Linked DNA regions of Homo sapiens: region 1 is linked to region 2. The links come from fine-mapping of genetic effects on gene expression. Tissue or cell type: left ventricle. Region 2 holds a variant in brackets; the other region holds the start of a gene. All regions are shown on one strand. Distances are between the middles of the regions.

Evidence for each region. PIP is the estimated chance that this variant, and not a neighbour inherited with it, causes the effect.
Region 1: CD163L1 starts here. The variant in region 2 is fine-mapped to the expression of CD163L1 in left ventricle (GTEx, PIP 0.93).

The regions. Positions count from the first base shown.
Region 1 is chr12:7,439,987-7,448,096 of GRCh38, reverse strand. CD163L1 (CD163 molecule like 1) reads left to right here and starts at 3,944. Exons shown (of 20, transcript NM_174941.6): 1 at 3,944-4,000; 2 at 6,851-6,943. The coding sequence starts at 3,970. It also overlaps the pseudogene LOC100419928.
Region 2 is chr12:7,257,366-7,265,475 of GRCh38, reverse strand. No RefSeq gene overlaps it. Among named protein-coding and RNA genes, the nearest start is that of ACSM4, 43 kb to the left of the region's middle. RefSeq lists a silencer at 6,166-6,366. The variant T/AAT (reference allele first, on the strand shown) is at 4,062.

The DNA of each region.
Region 1 (8,110 bases), 180 kb before region 2:
CTGTATTAGTCTGCTCTGGCTGTCATAACAAAATACCACAGACTGGGTGGCTTCAGCTACAGAAATTTATGCTCTCACAGTTATGGAGGCTAGAAGTCCATGTTCAAGGTGCCAGCAAATTTGGTTTCTGGTGAGGGCTCTCTTCCTGGCTTGCAAACAGCCACCTTCTCTCTGTGTCCTCACATGGCCTTTCCTCTTTGCATGTGTGAAGAGAGTTCTCTGTGTCTTGTTTTGTTCTTATAAGGATAGTAATCCTGGATTAGGACTTCACTCTTATAACTTTATGTAATGTTAATTACTTCCCTAAAGGCCCTATCTTCAAATATAGTCACATTAGGGCTTCAACCTGTGGATTTTGTGGGGGACAAAATTCATTCCGTAACATTCTACCCTCCACTCCCAAATTCATGTTATTCTCACATGATAAATATATTAATCCCATTCCAACAACACATAAAGTCTTAACCCTTTCCAGCATCAATTCTAAAGTCTAAAGTGCAAAGTCTCATTTAAATCAGGTATGGGTGAGACTCAAGTTATGATTCATCCTGAGGCAAAATTCCTTTCCAGTTGTGAACCTGTGAAGCCAGACAAGTTATGTGCATCCAAAAAACAGTAGTGGGACAGGCATAAGACAGACATTCTCATTCCAAAAAGGAGAAGTGGCAAATTCCATTAGATCTTAAGATTCAACAATAATTATCTTTGGCTGAATCCTCTGCCCTCCAGGCCCACTGGGGTGGCATTGTCACCACCACAGCTGTAAGTAGCAGACTGTTAAAACTTTTTGTGGCTGCTCCACTCCTCAGGCACGGATGGAGGCAGCCTGGTCTACTGAAACTGAGGAGATGGTCCCATCCTCTGAAACTGAGGACAAAACAGCCTTTCCTCTGGGCCTATAGTGGGAGTTACAGCACTGATGACCTCTGAATCACCTTCAAGGTCATTTATCCCTTTCCTTGAAGGATAAAGCATGTTCACAGCTGAATATCTCTATTATTTCATCCTACAGAATCTCAGAAGTCAGAAAGCTTTCCATGATTTATTTCAACCCATTTCTATTCTCTTTGGTCCAAACTGGCAGGGTCTCTGCTGATATAATCCCATCTCTATTCAAGGCTCCCGCTAAGGTGGATGAAAAAAGTCATGGTTAATTTCCCTATGGAGTGATTGAGGCGCCACACCATTGATGTTCTCTCCAGAACACATTTTATCATTTTTTTGCTATATAAATAGGCCGAGATTTTTCCAAATCTTCAGTTTCTGGGTTGCTTTTGTTTTTGTTTTTTGCTTAACAATGCTGTCAATTTATCTTTCCCCTCTAGCCTTTTACCATGAGCAATTAGGAAAAACTAGGCTGTGCTTTTAACACTTTGCTTATATATCTTCCCTTTTAAAAATCCAAAGTTGTAATTCACAAGTCCTACACTTTACAAAACACTAAGACACAATTCAGACAAGTTCTTTGCCACTTTAAAACAAAAATCATCTTTTCTGCAGTTTCCAATAACATGTTCCTCACTTCCATGGAAGACTTCATCAGAATTGCTTTTAGCATTCATGTTTTTATTAACAGTCCCTTCAAGGCAATTTAGGCTTTCTCAGGCATGCACCTGAAAACTTTTCTAGCCTCTATTCACTACCCAGTTCCAAAGGCACTTCCACATTTTTAGGTTATCTGTTACAGAAGCATCTCCCTTCTCAGTACCAACATCTGCATTTGTCTGCTTGGATCAACATAGCAAAGTACTGTAGACTGAGTCACTTAAAAATGACAGAAATTTATTTTTCACATTTCTGGAGGCTAGAAGTTCATTATCAAGGTACCAGGAAATTTGGTTTCTAGTGAGGGCTCTCTTGCTGGCTTTTAGACATCCACTTTTTGTCTGTGTCCTCACGTGGCCTTTCTTCTGCACATTTGTGGAAAGAGAGAGAACAAGCTCTGGTGTCCCTTCTTGTAAGGACATCAATCCTATTGGATTAGGGCCTCACCCTTATAATCTCAAGTAACCTTAATTACCTCCTTAAAGGCCCTGTCTTGAAACATAGTCACACTGGGGGGTTATTGCTTTAATCTATAAATTTTGAGGAGACACAATTCAGTCCATGGAATAGCAGTGGCCATGGGAGCAGATCCTTCCTCAGTCAAGCTTCCAGGTGAGACCACAGCCCCAGTTTACAATGTAATTATAGCCCTGTGTGAGATCTTGAAGCAGAATATCCAGCTATTTCCCCAAAGAGATAGTTATCACATCCCTTATGCTTTTTTATCATAAAGGCAAGAAAGGGACTCATTTAGATTAGAACCTGCTACGAAATATTTGAGAGTGAGAGAACTTGGGTGTCTAGAAATGGGAGAAACTCAAAACAGTAGCAGAGATATTGTGGAGACATTTATTCTATCAAAGAATAGCAATAATCAGGTTTTCATTGTTTTCTATTTTCAGTTCCCACTTCTGTGAGATCATTTTATCAGCAGTTAGTTTGCTATGGATTCTGTTAGCATGAAAGCGTTTCCGGTCATACTGTATTTTAAAAATTTCAGGAAATTTTCTCAGCATGGCTGAGAAATAATATACTAAAACAAGTTTCAGCATCCTCTTTTTGTGTCTTCCATTCTTCCATCATGTGACTTATCCTAGTTAGTGAATTACATTTCCCCAAAGACATTTCATCTCAAGCTTTCCAAGAAAAAATTCTCCCTGTTTTCCTCCTGATTTCTTCTGACTTTGGGCACCTACCTCAGTTCTGAGAAGTAAGAAAGAGACTATATTTTGAGAATGGCACTTTATCATTTCAGAGGCACATCTCGCTCATATCTAGCAAGCTCCGATGTTTAATTGGACTTCAAAATACATTTGGCATTAATTGCAGCAGAATTTTATTTAACCTCTGTTATATAAAGCCTTGTCAGGTATCTAAGTTGAAAAGGGACAAGAAAAAATAAAGTTCTTGAATTTATCAATGGAGATTTATAAGGACTTATTTATCTAAAGTATTTAGATATTTTATATCTCATTTTAATTTCTGTATATATTAGCTTCTTTTTTACTAATAGGCCTACTCGACATGGAAGTATAGGACGAAAAATCCTGGCAAACACTCTGATGGGCTCACTTGGGTCATTGGCTTTTCCTTGAACTTGTCACTGTAATCGGGGAGACGTGGGCGTGTGAAAAGATGTGATCTACCATTCTTAACATATCAAGGAAGGGAAAAAGCAATTTTCCCAAAGAAGCAGGGCAGGACATACAGGCCTATCCGAACACAGAACAATCACTATGAGCTCAGAAGCCACTCATGGTTTTCTACCTAATGGTTGAAATCATTTAAATGAATGTTTTCCAAACTCATTTGATGACTAAGCTTTATTTTCTTTTACATAATCATTAACAATAAAAAACTAATTTTAAAGGACTCCATTTTGTTAAACATTTTTATAGACATGAAATTTTTTCAAATATGTTTATCTGTGCTCATGTTTCATCAGCAAAGCTTTCGTAGACTAGCCAGTTTTCAGCAATGTAACCTCTTCTGATCCTTTTAGCATAACTGGTTGAAATATGTATGCTAAAGTAAACAAACCTGATGATATATTTTATCTTTTAGATAAATATCTATAAAACTGTGCTGACAAGATCACATTTATGGAACAAAAATTTTTAAATGTGAAACATGAGTCTTTTTGAAAATTTAGAGTGGCAATTTACAGTTCCCTTTATTCTGTGAGACTTTCCAGGCATATTATTTAACTTCCTTTGTTTTCCATATCCTAACGTGATAAGGAAGTAGCAAAGAAAAAACAACCTCAGCTTTTATAATGACTTCCCCTTTGGAAAACTATGAACTCAATTTTACAGTATTGTCATTTCCAAATAGCAGATCTGTTTTCACCTCATGAGCAGTTCTGAGATTATATATAAGAGGACCCAGGAGTTACATCAGGACTCAGGAAGAGATAGACCCATAATGATGCTGCCTCAAAACTCGTGGCATATTGGTAAGGTTTTGCTTTTATTTTGCTCTGCCATTTGGGAGATGGTGGGTATACTAAGAATATGTGTAACAACAAACAGATATAAATATTATGTAGTAAGGTAAAAAGAAAACAGGACATGAGAAATATAAAAAAATTGAAAGTTTTGTGGAACTTAGAGTAGCAGCAATATTGGAGGCAAAACTGAAATCCAAGAAAGGAGGAAAACATTAATAAAGTAAACAGAAAATGTATTATAAAGACTGGAGATTAGAAGTCACACAAGGATATGAAGTTGTGGAAATAGAAAGAAGGGATAAATTAGAAACTTATTGTTATCAAGTGCCAGGTACTACAGTAAATGCTTTAGGTCATCTCAATTTAATTCACACATGTAACCTATTTTATAGATATTATTGTCTCCATTGGTAGATGGAAAATGAAGACTTATAAGGACTAACTGACTTATGTAAGGTCATGTAGTAGAATCTCAAGTGTAATTTAAATTCAGGACCAGCTAAGTCTGAGCCCTTGATCTTTCTGCTATAAATTTTAATAAAGCAAATAAATAAGAAGACATTATGATAAAAAACAAAGAACAAGTCTTTGATGGACCCTAAAGAGTAAGGACTAAGAAAGGAATACATGGCTAAGAAGTCTTTCACAGCACATCTGAAATTAGTAGTAACCTTTGCACTTGCACTTCATAGACATTTCGTGGAAATAAAGAATCACGAAGGGAGGTTTTTGCTGTATTTGGGACTTATAACTCCTAAATAGGATTGAGGCTTTTGAAAATGCAGTGCTACTCCTGTTGGCATTGTGTCTCTGTGCCATTCCTCAGTGCAATTACTACAAGTCAACTTAATATTTTGTAACTGTTTTGCTTATGACTAAAGACCAGCACATTTCTAGAAAACCAGCAGAAGTTCTGATATTTTTCAAAGCCTCCTTTTTGAAAAAGGGTTTCTACAGTTTGAGAAGCTTGGCTGCCTTCTATCTAGCAAGGCTCATCTTAATGAATTACAGTTCTTCATAATTCATGTGTGTTACTTAAAAGATAATATTATTTAACTTTCAACATGCTGTCTGCCATGTATCTAATTAGAAAAGGAATGGGAAAGATGAAGGTCTTGAATTGGTGAGATGGTATTAGATATATAGAAGGTCACAAGTTCTGGCAATTATACTTTAATTCTCCTTCTCAAGAATTTCCTACTGCACTATTTGTTCACGTTCATCAGATCTTGATTGTGCTGGTGTCAGAGCTTACTATTCTTTTTTCTTTATAGTTCATCTTTAGCTCTAACCATTCTTACAAATGGGCACTCAGAGTTTCCTGGAAGGATTTAGGAAGATGAAATGGCCTCCTAGGATAATCCTACACATGAGGTTTGATGGAACTAAATATTCTTATTAGGAACAAAAGAAATAAGAGAAAAAAGAAGACCAACTTAAAGTGTTTTGGACAAGATGGAAAAGAAGGAAATTGGGACACTAATTGCCCATTCCACACTTATTTCTCCCTGTTTCGTTCTATAGGGAGGGTTTTCTCTTGATTTGGGTACATTTTCCAAGAATGATGGATGTGACTGATGATAATTGTAATAATAAAGTCTCCTCTATGGTTATTACTGACTGTTGCCAAACTCACTTGGGATTACTTCTTAGAGAAGTGCCCGGGATCCATTTTAGTTTCAAAGCATCATTTGAAAAACTAAAGATGTCCACCAAAGCAGGTTGCGCCTTCTGTCTCTGCTTTTGCGTAGCCCAAGCAGCATGGGCCTTTCCCCGATGGGTACTGTTCCTTCTGTCCTCTTAGGGTTTTTGTTTTTTGTTGTCTGGGATTACACATGCTCAGTTTAACTCTGACTTCATCTTTTCCATAAGATACTAATGAAAATACTATTTAAGATAGTTCTCTAACAGTTACAGCTGTTACATACCCCTCAAGTAAACAGGATGATAAATATTATTTTAAAGTATTTCTTATACATTTATTTACCCCTATGAATTAATCATCCCATCTGCTTTTAAAATAATCTTTCTATAATGTAAATTTTATTTATTACACTGATTCAATTCTTTATAGTCTCCAAATAACTCTCAGAATAAATTCTCAACTCCTTCGCTTGTGTATTGCTCCTGCCTATCTTAGTTCATTCTTTCCCCACACGTGTAGCATAAACTTTATTAGATGCAGAACTGAGCATGACTGAAAAGACAGGGAGAAGTGAGGAAGTGGCAAGATTCTGTAGGAATAATAGAATAGTGACCCTGAAGAAAAGTGGATAGCTTTGGTAAATAATCATGAGCTCAATCAGCAGTTATTATAGTGACCTCCAAATGTTGATTTGCTTGTACATTCCAGTCACAAGCCACTGAGTGGAATACAGGCAAGAACACTTATTCATTCCTCTATTCCCATAATGAAGCACAAGATCGGGTACATATGTCATACTCAATAAAGGAGCAAATGAATGAACAAAGTAGGGGGATAACGTTAGGAGGAAAAACAGTAAAAATGAGGAGAGGGTCAAAGAGTTGAGAAGTAAAAATTACTCAGTAACCCAAAATGCTAATCAATTACCCCAAACAGCCACAAAATATATTTGGACACAGAATGCAATTTTTCAATGAATCACATGCTAAAATATCTGCCCTGTTACAAACCACTTGGTGCCTTTCCATCACAAACAGGAGCTAGTCCTGTGGCTTTTCCTGGGAAAAGGACTTTCTTGTGCGGTATCCTTGACAGGTGGAAGAATAATTCATCTTACTCCTTCTATTTTATTTTGGATTTAAGTCATTGAGGTCATCTAACATTTCTTAGAAAGACATGAAATTCTACCCTGCTATATTTTGTTTCTCCAGATTTTGGAAGATGCTGCTGTCATCAGAACCTTTTCTCTGCTGTGGTAACTTGCATCCTGCTCCTGAATTCCTGCTTTCTCATCAGCAGTTTTAGTGAGTTCTGATGGATGATAACTTTTGGGCTTACAATCCTCTATTCTACCTTTCCCCTACTCACTACCCTAAGTGCATATTTTGAGGGAAATAGAACATGTAAAAATAATGTTGGACCTTCAATAGCTATACCCTGTAAATAAAGGTGTCCAAATTATTTTTATGCATTTCATATTACATTTTTCGTTGACATTTTTCTCCTTCAGATAAAGAGAATTTCCAAATCCGGCCGGGCACAGTGGCTCAGGCCTGTAATCTCAGCACTTTGGGAGGCCAAGGTGGGGAGATCACCTGAGGTCAGGAGTTCGAGACCAGCCTGGCCAACACAGTGAAACCACATCTCTATTAAAAATACAAAAATTAGCCGGGTGTGGTGGTGTGCACCTGTAACCCCAGCTACTTGGGGGGCTGAAGTGGAAGAATTGCTTGAACCCAGGAAGTGGAGGTTGTAGTGAGCCGAGATCGTGCCCCTACACTCCAGCCTGGGCGACAGAGCAAGACTCCATCTCAAAAAAAAAAAAAAAGAAAAAAGATAAAGATAGTTTCCAAACGTAAAATGTCTCACTGAAAAAATATGGATATTGTATTTTTGCAAATAGAAAAATCGGTTAATAAAAACTTACAAGATACAGAAATCAAAGAATTAAATACAATTAAAAATATATATGTGTTACACACCATGGAATACTATGCAGCCATAAAAAGATGAATTCAAGGGCCGGGCTGGGCGCGGGAGCTGGCCGGGCTGGGCGCGCCGCGGTCCCGCACCCACTTCCGCTTCCCGTGCGGCGGTGGGGGGATGGCGGCAGGGCCGGTGGGCGGCGGCGGCTCCAGGTCCCTGCCCGGGCGCGGCACTGCGCAGTCCGCCCTCCCCGTCGCAGGGGCGCTCCTGAGCTTCGCGGGGCCGCCTCCAGGGCTGCCTGCGCGGAGGGCCGGCCGCGGCCGACGCGAGTGTTAAGTGTCCGCCCTGGCCGGCTACCCGGAGCCAAGAGCAGGCGGCGGAGCCTGAGCGGGACGTGGCCACGCTGGCGCGGCGGGTCCAAGCCCGCCATTGGTCGGCTTCCGTTACGCCGCTGATGTGGAGTAGGGCGGAGCGCGGAACGCGAGGAGCTGCTGGGGTGTGTGTCGCAGCGGGTTTTCCTCGGCGGTTTGCGGAGCTGCTAGGAT
Region 2 (8,110 bases):
AACTGTTCTCATGAAAGCGGGAGTTGGCAAACTGGCAAACTGCATCTGCTGCCAGAAGGAATGCTGAGGCAGTCACGCCCCAAGCGCAGTGTTCCTTGTGGTTATCTATAGGAATATCTGAAGCCTGTAGTATAAAAAAAGCAATTAGGTGAACCTGTGATAAATCAAGCAGCTGACCAACCATTACCTTTCCTCCCTGTTGATTCTACGTAATAAATACAAAGGGCTGTAGAAGCTCAGGGCCCTTGCTCACTAGAAACAAGGAGCCCCCCACCCCTTCTTTTAAAACAGATCTTTTGTCTTTGTCTTCATTTCTGCATTCGTCCTCCTTCGTTCAGTCCCATAGTAACCGTCACAGGAAGGGGCTGTCACTCTGTCTTTGTCCCCTTAGGAGCTGATGGCACATACATTAGACAATAGCTAAACATGAGTTGCAGTATTTTCTATGCAGACAGACCAGTGAGTCAAAGATGGTGCTACCATAGACTCCAACCTCTACCTCCTGAGACTTCTGGCCTGAGAGGATAATTGCCTTAGGGAGTCTGCTCTTAAACAGTACTCAGATCTTCAGAGGTTTTCAAGAAGATGAAGGGATTCAGATGCCAGATGTGGTGATCAAAACATGAATTCCATTTCTTCCTCTAGGCCAGTGGGCAGAACCCCAGGTGCAGCCAGAAGAAGAAAGAGCTGTTGTTTCCTATGAATGGAAATCAGAAACCAGTATTTAAGGGTTTAATCCAAATTAATGATCTGCATTTCAGGGCCCCAGATGGTGTAGGTTGGATTACCCCATATATTGCTTCAGACTTTACCCTGTCAGTAAGTGGGGGGTGATGGGCTTGTCACATTTCTTATTTATTCAGCTGGATGAACAGATCATGAGAAATGGGGAAAGTCTATACTGGAACAATTAAATGTTTTTAGAGCCATGTCATTATCTTCCCTCACGCCATTGGAATATAAACTCTATAAAAAGGGAGATTTTTGTCTGTTCTGTTCACTATTCTATTTTTTGCACTTTGGACAATGCCTGGAACATAGTAGCTTTTTTATTTGTTAAATAAATTAATATATTTCTCCCAGAGCAACATCAACATGTGTGGGCTCTTCTTTAGGGACCTTCCTTTTGCCCTTGCTTGGCCCACATATGCATCTTTCTCCAAGGGAGGTATTTGTGGTCTGGATGTGGCTATTCTGGAGTTTCTCATTCATTAATTACCTTGTCAGATTGAACAACTGACATCCTTTGTACTGAAGAAATATCTACAGGAATGTTTTCTGCTGATGGACTTAGAGTTTTCCACTTTTAATAGATTTATTAGCAACAAAATAAAGCACATACACAACACACACACACACTTTTGGGCATGTGTGATGCATAAGTAGAGCTGGTAATTTGTCATCTCTAGACAAACTCAGAGAGGAAGGATGCAGTTTGTATCAGTCAGGATGAACTACGCTATGCTACATAATAAAGAATCCCCCAAATCTCCGTGGTCTATAACATCACAATCTTTTGCTCTCACTACTTGTTCAGCATGGGTTGGCTGAGAGATCTTCTGTGACCTGGCTGATAGAACAACCATTATCTGAAGGATCGCCCATCATAAGTGTGGGAAAGGAAGCAATTATGTGCTCCAGCCTAGACATGGTATACATCATTCCAGCTCATAATTCATTGGCCAGAGCTTGTCACAAGGCCCAAGTGGAAATTGTAGTACTATCTGGGGGGTTGATATGCTTTGGATCTGTGTCCCCACCAAATCTCATGTTGAATTATAATTCTCAGTGTTGGAAATGGGGCCTGGTGGGAGGTGATTGGATCATGGGGGCAGATTGGATCATGGGTGCTGATAGCCAGTGAGTTATCATGAGATCTGGTTATTTAAAAGTGTGTAAAGTATGTAGCACCTTCTCCCATCTCTCTTCCTCCTGCTCCGGCTATGTGAAGTGCTGGCTGCCCCTTTGCCTTCTGTCATGATTGTAAGTTTCCTGAGGTCCCCCAGGCAGCAGAAGCTGCTATGCTTCCTGTACAGCCTGCAGAACCATGAGCCAATTAAACCTCTTTTCTGTATAAATTACCCAGTTACCCAGTCTCAGATATTTATTTTTCTTTCTTTTTTTTCAGGTATTTCTTTATAACAATAAGAGAATGGACTAATACAGGGGTGGATAGCTGGGTAATAACTACCACAGTTGTTTTACCACAGTGTTCTAGATTGATTTTATTTCTGGAAGTTTCTTTCTTTCTCTTTCTTTCTTTCTTTCTTTCAACTTTGTTTCTTTCCTCCTTTTTTTCTTTGCCAATCTCTGGGAAATCATTTTTTCTCTGAGACAGTTTTTCACACTATTGCCCAGGCTGGAGTGTAATGGTGCCATTGTGGTTCACTGCAGCCTCAACCTCCAGAGCTCAGGTGATCCTCTCACACCGGCCTCCTGAGTGTCTGGGACTAAGGACATGTGCCTCCATGGCCGGCTGGTGGTAGTTTTTCATAACAGAACCCAAGAGCACTTTCCTAGAGAGCAGTAGTTTAAATATTAGACTGGCCATTTTGTAACCTCAGCAAACTAGGTCTTACAGCAGCAATGATCATAGACTTCGAATCAGAGAGACGCACCTCTGCTACTTAATAGTTGTGTGGCATTACATAAGACACTAAATCTCTCCAAGATGAGTACTGTCATCTCTAAATTGGGTCTTACTCACAGATAAGATGAAATTGTTATGAAGATACTAGACCATCTAGTGAATTGCTTAGTATACAATATCTGGTACATATTACCAATTCAATACATGTTAGTTAGCTTGGAAGATAGAAAGTCTTACATTTTATTAGTTGGTGTTTCTTGAGCCAAGTTTTCTTGGCAGGTAAAGCTTTTATGTTCTCAGGAGGTCTGGCAATTAAGATTGCTCAAATTTCTCTGTGGGGGAATGTTATTTGAAATGATTCTTCTGTTTACCAGGTTCAACTTACATTAATTCTCTGCTTCCACACACAGTCTTTCACCTATATTCTCTTTACTACAGAATATCTGGAAGTCTCTTCTTTTTAAAAAATTTTCTGAAATATATATATGTGTATATTTGTGTGTATATATACCTCTTTTCTGTATAAAGTACCCAGTTACCCAGTCTCAGGTATTTATTTTTCTTTCTTTTTTTTCAGGTATTTCTTTTTTTTTTTTTTTTTTTTTTTTTTTTGAGACAGAGTCTCGCTCTGTTGCCCAGGCTGGAGTGCAGTGGCAGAATCTCAGCTCACTGCAACCTCCACCTCCCCGGTTCAAGCAATTTTCATTCCTCAGCCTCCTGAATAGCTGGGATTGCAGGTGCGCCCCATCATGCCTGGCTAATTTTTATATTTTTAGTAGAGATAGGGTTCCACCATGTTGGCCAGACTGGTCTCGAACTCCTGGCCTCAAGTGATGTGCCTGCCATGACCTCCCAAAGTGCTAGAAGTCTCAATATTAGTCTCAACCTTGGATATCCATCAGAATCCCCAGGGCATTTTTCAAAAGATCTATGCCTGAGCCCCACCTCAGACCAATTAAATCAGTTTCTCTGGGAGTGGGGACCCAGTCATCCATATTTTTAAAGCTCCTCTGGGGATTCTGGTGAGCAGCGAGGACTGAGAACTGCTGCTCTACATGTCTGGTTTTTGCCCATGTCTCTAGCCTCATCTCCTGCCACTGTCCTCCCTGTGCTCATCACGCTTTTTTTTTTGCTGTTCATTGAACATGCCAAGGTGGCTCCTACTCCAGAACCTTGACATTCACTGTTCCCTCAGCCTAAGTGTGTTGCTTCAGATTTCCATATAACTGATTCTTGTTCATGAGGTCTCAACTCAAATGTCATGTCTTCAGAATTTCACTCCACTACCCATTCTAAAGTAGCACTCCTCATCTGGTTTTACTTGAGCTATTTGCTGATTAATCTGCTATTTTCCTGCCTGTCTTCTCATTAGAACGTAGACTCCAAAAAAGTAGAGCTCTTGTCTGATTTATTCACTATTATATGTCCAGGGTTTAGAGCACTATCTGGCACATAGTAGATACTCAATAAA[T/AAT]ATTTGTTGAATAAATTATTCTTGTCTGCCATAAACTAATATAATTACAAAATGTTGTTTTAATGATCAATTCTTACGATATATTTACAAAACAATCATTTCCTTAGAAGCGAGCCTTGCAGTTTCTATTTTCTCATGCCCCTTTACATAGTTTATATTGTTTAACTATTTGTTATAGGGAGAAAAAAGAGATAACGCTATAGATAAATACCCATTTTTATTACGATTATTGTACCTACAGCCTTTGCTCTATCCTGTTTTCCTGTCCATTTTATTCTTTTCTCTCAGTGGTTACCATCATTCTGAAGGTTTCTTGGGTTTGAAGGCATTGATGTTTCTTTTCCTTAAATTTCTCTCTCTAGTGATCATTAAGAAAGACTAGGGGACTTGAGTGAAATGTCTGGGTTTGAATTCTGACCCTGCAAATTTCCAAGGGCAGGTCATTTAACCTCTTTGAACCTCAGTTTCCTCATTAATGAAGTGAGGACACTAATAGTTTCTCAAAAAACTATTTTTTGAGTTCCTGTCTCAAAAAACTGTCATAAAAGAAAGTGAGAAAATATAGGTAAAATTACCTCCTCCTTGCAGAAGCCATCAGCAACAACTTCCTCAACTTGGAGTCTTTCCCTTTCACTCATTTTTTCTCTTCTACATCCCACCTTCCCTGCGTCCAGGGTCAGGAGGAGGGTGTTCTGGATCCCTCCTCTTTGTCTCTACAGTGGCCTCACCCATTTTTCCTTCTCTTTTCTCTTCCAGCTTCTCTGTTACTGACCCTTTCTCACAAGCAGTCAAACACGCTGACATTGTTCCTCTATTTTAAAAGCCAATACCTCACTCTTGGTCTCCTGTTGCTTATATTAATATTTCTCTCCAGATAAAGTTTTTTGTTGTTGTTGTTGTTTTTGTTTGTTTGTTTGTTTGAGATAGGGTCTTTCTCTGTCACCTAGGCTGGAGTGCAGTAGCCCGATCACAGCTCACTTTAGCATTAAACTCCGGAGCTCAAACAATCCTACTGCCTTGGCCTCCAGAGTAGCTGGAACACAGGTGCGTGTCACCATGCCTGGCTAATTTTTTATTTTTTGTAAAGATGATGTATCGCTATGTTGCCCATGCTGGCAGGTTAAGTTCTCAACAGAAAAGTTCACTTTAATTGAGGCTTTTACAGACTTTTCTTCTAGACACCCCTCCACATACTACATTGGCCTCCTGCCCCAACTTCTCTCCTGAAGCTGCCTTTGCCATAATCATAGGGACCCTCTGGGTGCCACATTCAGTTGTTCATTATACATATTGATCTCTTAACAGCATTTGAAACTACTAACCATTCCTTCTTATAACTTTCTCTTTCCTTGGTTTTTATCATATCATTCTCTTCTGCCATTCCTTTTACCTGTCTAACTGTTCCTGCTTCATCTCTTTCTTGGACTCTTCTTCTTAAATATTGGCATTGCAAGGGCTTCACCTTTAGCCTGCTGTTCTTCTGGAACTATATTCTGTGCCTGAGTGACCTCATTCATGTTCATAAATTCAATCACCATTTATACACTGAAGATTTCCCAAGTTCATCTCTCATTTAAACAACTCTTTTGAGAATTAAACCCATTTCTCCAACTATTTCCTGGTATTTCCTGGACATCTTCACCCAAATGTTCAATGAGCGCCTCAAAAAATCAAGAACATAACAATTCTTGAACATATTCCCCTGTTCCCAGAATATAAGTTCAGGAAAATAGGAACTCTTACCAATATTTTTTATTGCTATATCCCTAGAGCTTATAATATTGTCAGACACATATTAAGTGCTCAGTTAATATTGGTTAAATGAATGGAAATTTTCCCCACCAACCTGTTCTTCCCTCTGTATAGCATTAATATTTGCTCAATTATAGCAACATGGTTTCTTGTCATCTCTTTTTTCCTTAATCCTTATATCCCATTGGTTTTCTATGTTCTGTGTATTCAACCTGCTCAATCTAAAGTCCATTTCTTCTCCTACATTCTCACTGATATTTTTCAGGCATTTATAATCTCTCCTTTTGTATCCTCACTGTTCTTATTCATATGATGGGGATAATAATAGGACTTTTCTCATAGGACAGTCATAAGCTTCAGTGAAGTAATATACCCAAACTCTTAGTATGGTGCTGGGATGACTCAGTAAATTTGGCGAGACAGCTGTATTTCTTATGTATCTATATGGATCTCTACAAATACATCTACATGTAGTAAGAGGACAGTCTAGTTAACCTCCATATTTTAGTGTAAGTCCTAACCCAGGAGAGAATGTATTGAACAGATAAATAAATTTGCTTTGTAATGTCAATCAAGTCATGTCCTTGTTGGCCTTCAGATTATTCATTTATTAATTCAGTTAACTAGACTAGCTAGGATCATTTTATAGCATTTTCATATTACAAAGCACGTTCATAGCCATTAACTCATCTTATTTCCATGGCTATTATTCATCTTATTTCCATAGCATTTATTATCATTAGCACCCCAATTTTCAGGTGAAATAACTGAGGCTTAGGATATTAGTTGTCCATAACCCGTCCACTACTTGTTAAAAGCAGAATCAGGATTTGAACCCAGTCTTCTAATGCTAAGTCCTATTGTTCTAAATATTCAGGTGAAAATATATGCATTTTATTTTCGTGTTTCAGGAAGTTGTTTGTGGTCTCTTATTGCACTGTTTTTTCTTGAGTCAGTTGGTGTTGAAGGATGGAACTTAGTGGTAGAAGCCACTCTAGAGCCCTAGTTCCTTTAGCTTACAGAAGAAAAAGAAACAATAAAAATCCATTTCCTTTAGAGGTTGTGAAATCAGAGGAAAAAGCCACCTCATCCCACACCCCAGTTGTAGTCAAGAGCCAGACTTTGCTGAGGCATTTTGGCAGATTGAACCCTTTGTCTGTGTTGACATAGATGCTGAGGGGAGCTTTCTTTATTATGAGATAAAGAGACAGGATCTGAGATTATAAAAGCTTTCACATGTCAGAAAAAGAACCAGTGGGAACAAGTTCATTCATGAAGCTGCCTTAAGGAACTGCAGGTGTTGAGGCACTGGGAGAGACATACACAAATGGATAGATTTCAGGTTTCCAGGACCTCCACCCAGTCACCATCATAAGTACTCATTTGGGGAATCCAGATTGTTCATTGCCTAGCCCAGTGGTTTTTCAAGTATGTTTTGTGGACCTTCAGAGTCAGAAGAATTTGGGGTATTTTCACTTGTTGCCCTATTTACATGATTTTTCTAAATCATTTGAAAGTAAGTTGCAGACATTATTTTCTTTTTTAAATTCTTCAGCATTCATCTTTAAAACATGAGGACATTCTCCCATATAGCCATAATAGGAGAATATTATGACCATCGAAGACATTCATAATTCCTAAATATCATTTATAACCATTCCACACTAAAAATTCCTCAATGGTCCCAAAATGTCTTTTATAGCTTTTTTAAAAGTCCAGGATTCAAGCACGTCTCCTGTAATGTAGAAGAATTCTCTTGCTTTTTTTACCCATGACATTGTCTTGAGAAGAATCCAGATCAGTTGTTGTCTTGATGAATATCTCACATACTGCCTGTGTATTTTTGTGTCCTTGTGGTCTCAATTAACTTGTTCAGGGAAACTGGCAGTCTACTACGCTGCTGAGAGTATAAATTGAGGTCATCTTCCTGGAGGGAAATGGGTAATATATTTTAAAACTTTCACAGACTTTAAATTAAGCTGGAGCCCGATTAGATTCAGGATAAACACTTCTAGCAGGACATTTCATAAATAATCCATGTATAACGCACTGCATCATCTTACTAGGCACATGATGTCAGATTGTCCCACTATTGATGATGTTAAATTTGTTCACTTGGTTCAGATGGTGTCAGCCACACTTTGCAAGTGTAACTTTCACCTAGAGGACATAGCATCCAGTTATGATCCTTATCTAAATCAATCATTGGAGATTGCAAAATGTTGATTTCCAAATTCTGTTATTCTTTCTACTTTTACTAACCAGAGTTTTCCTCAAAAAGGAATTTTTCTCCCTCC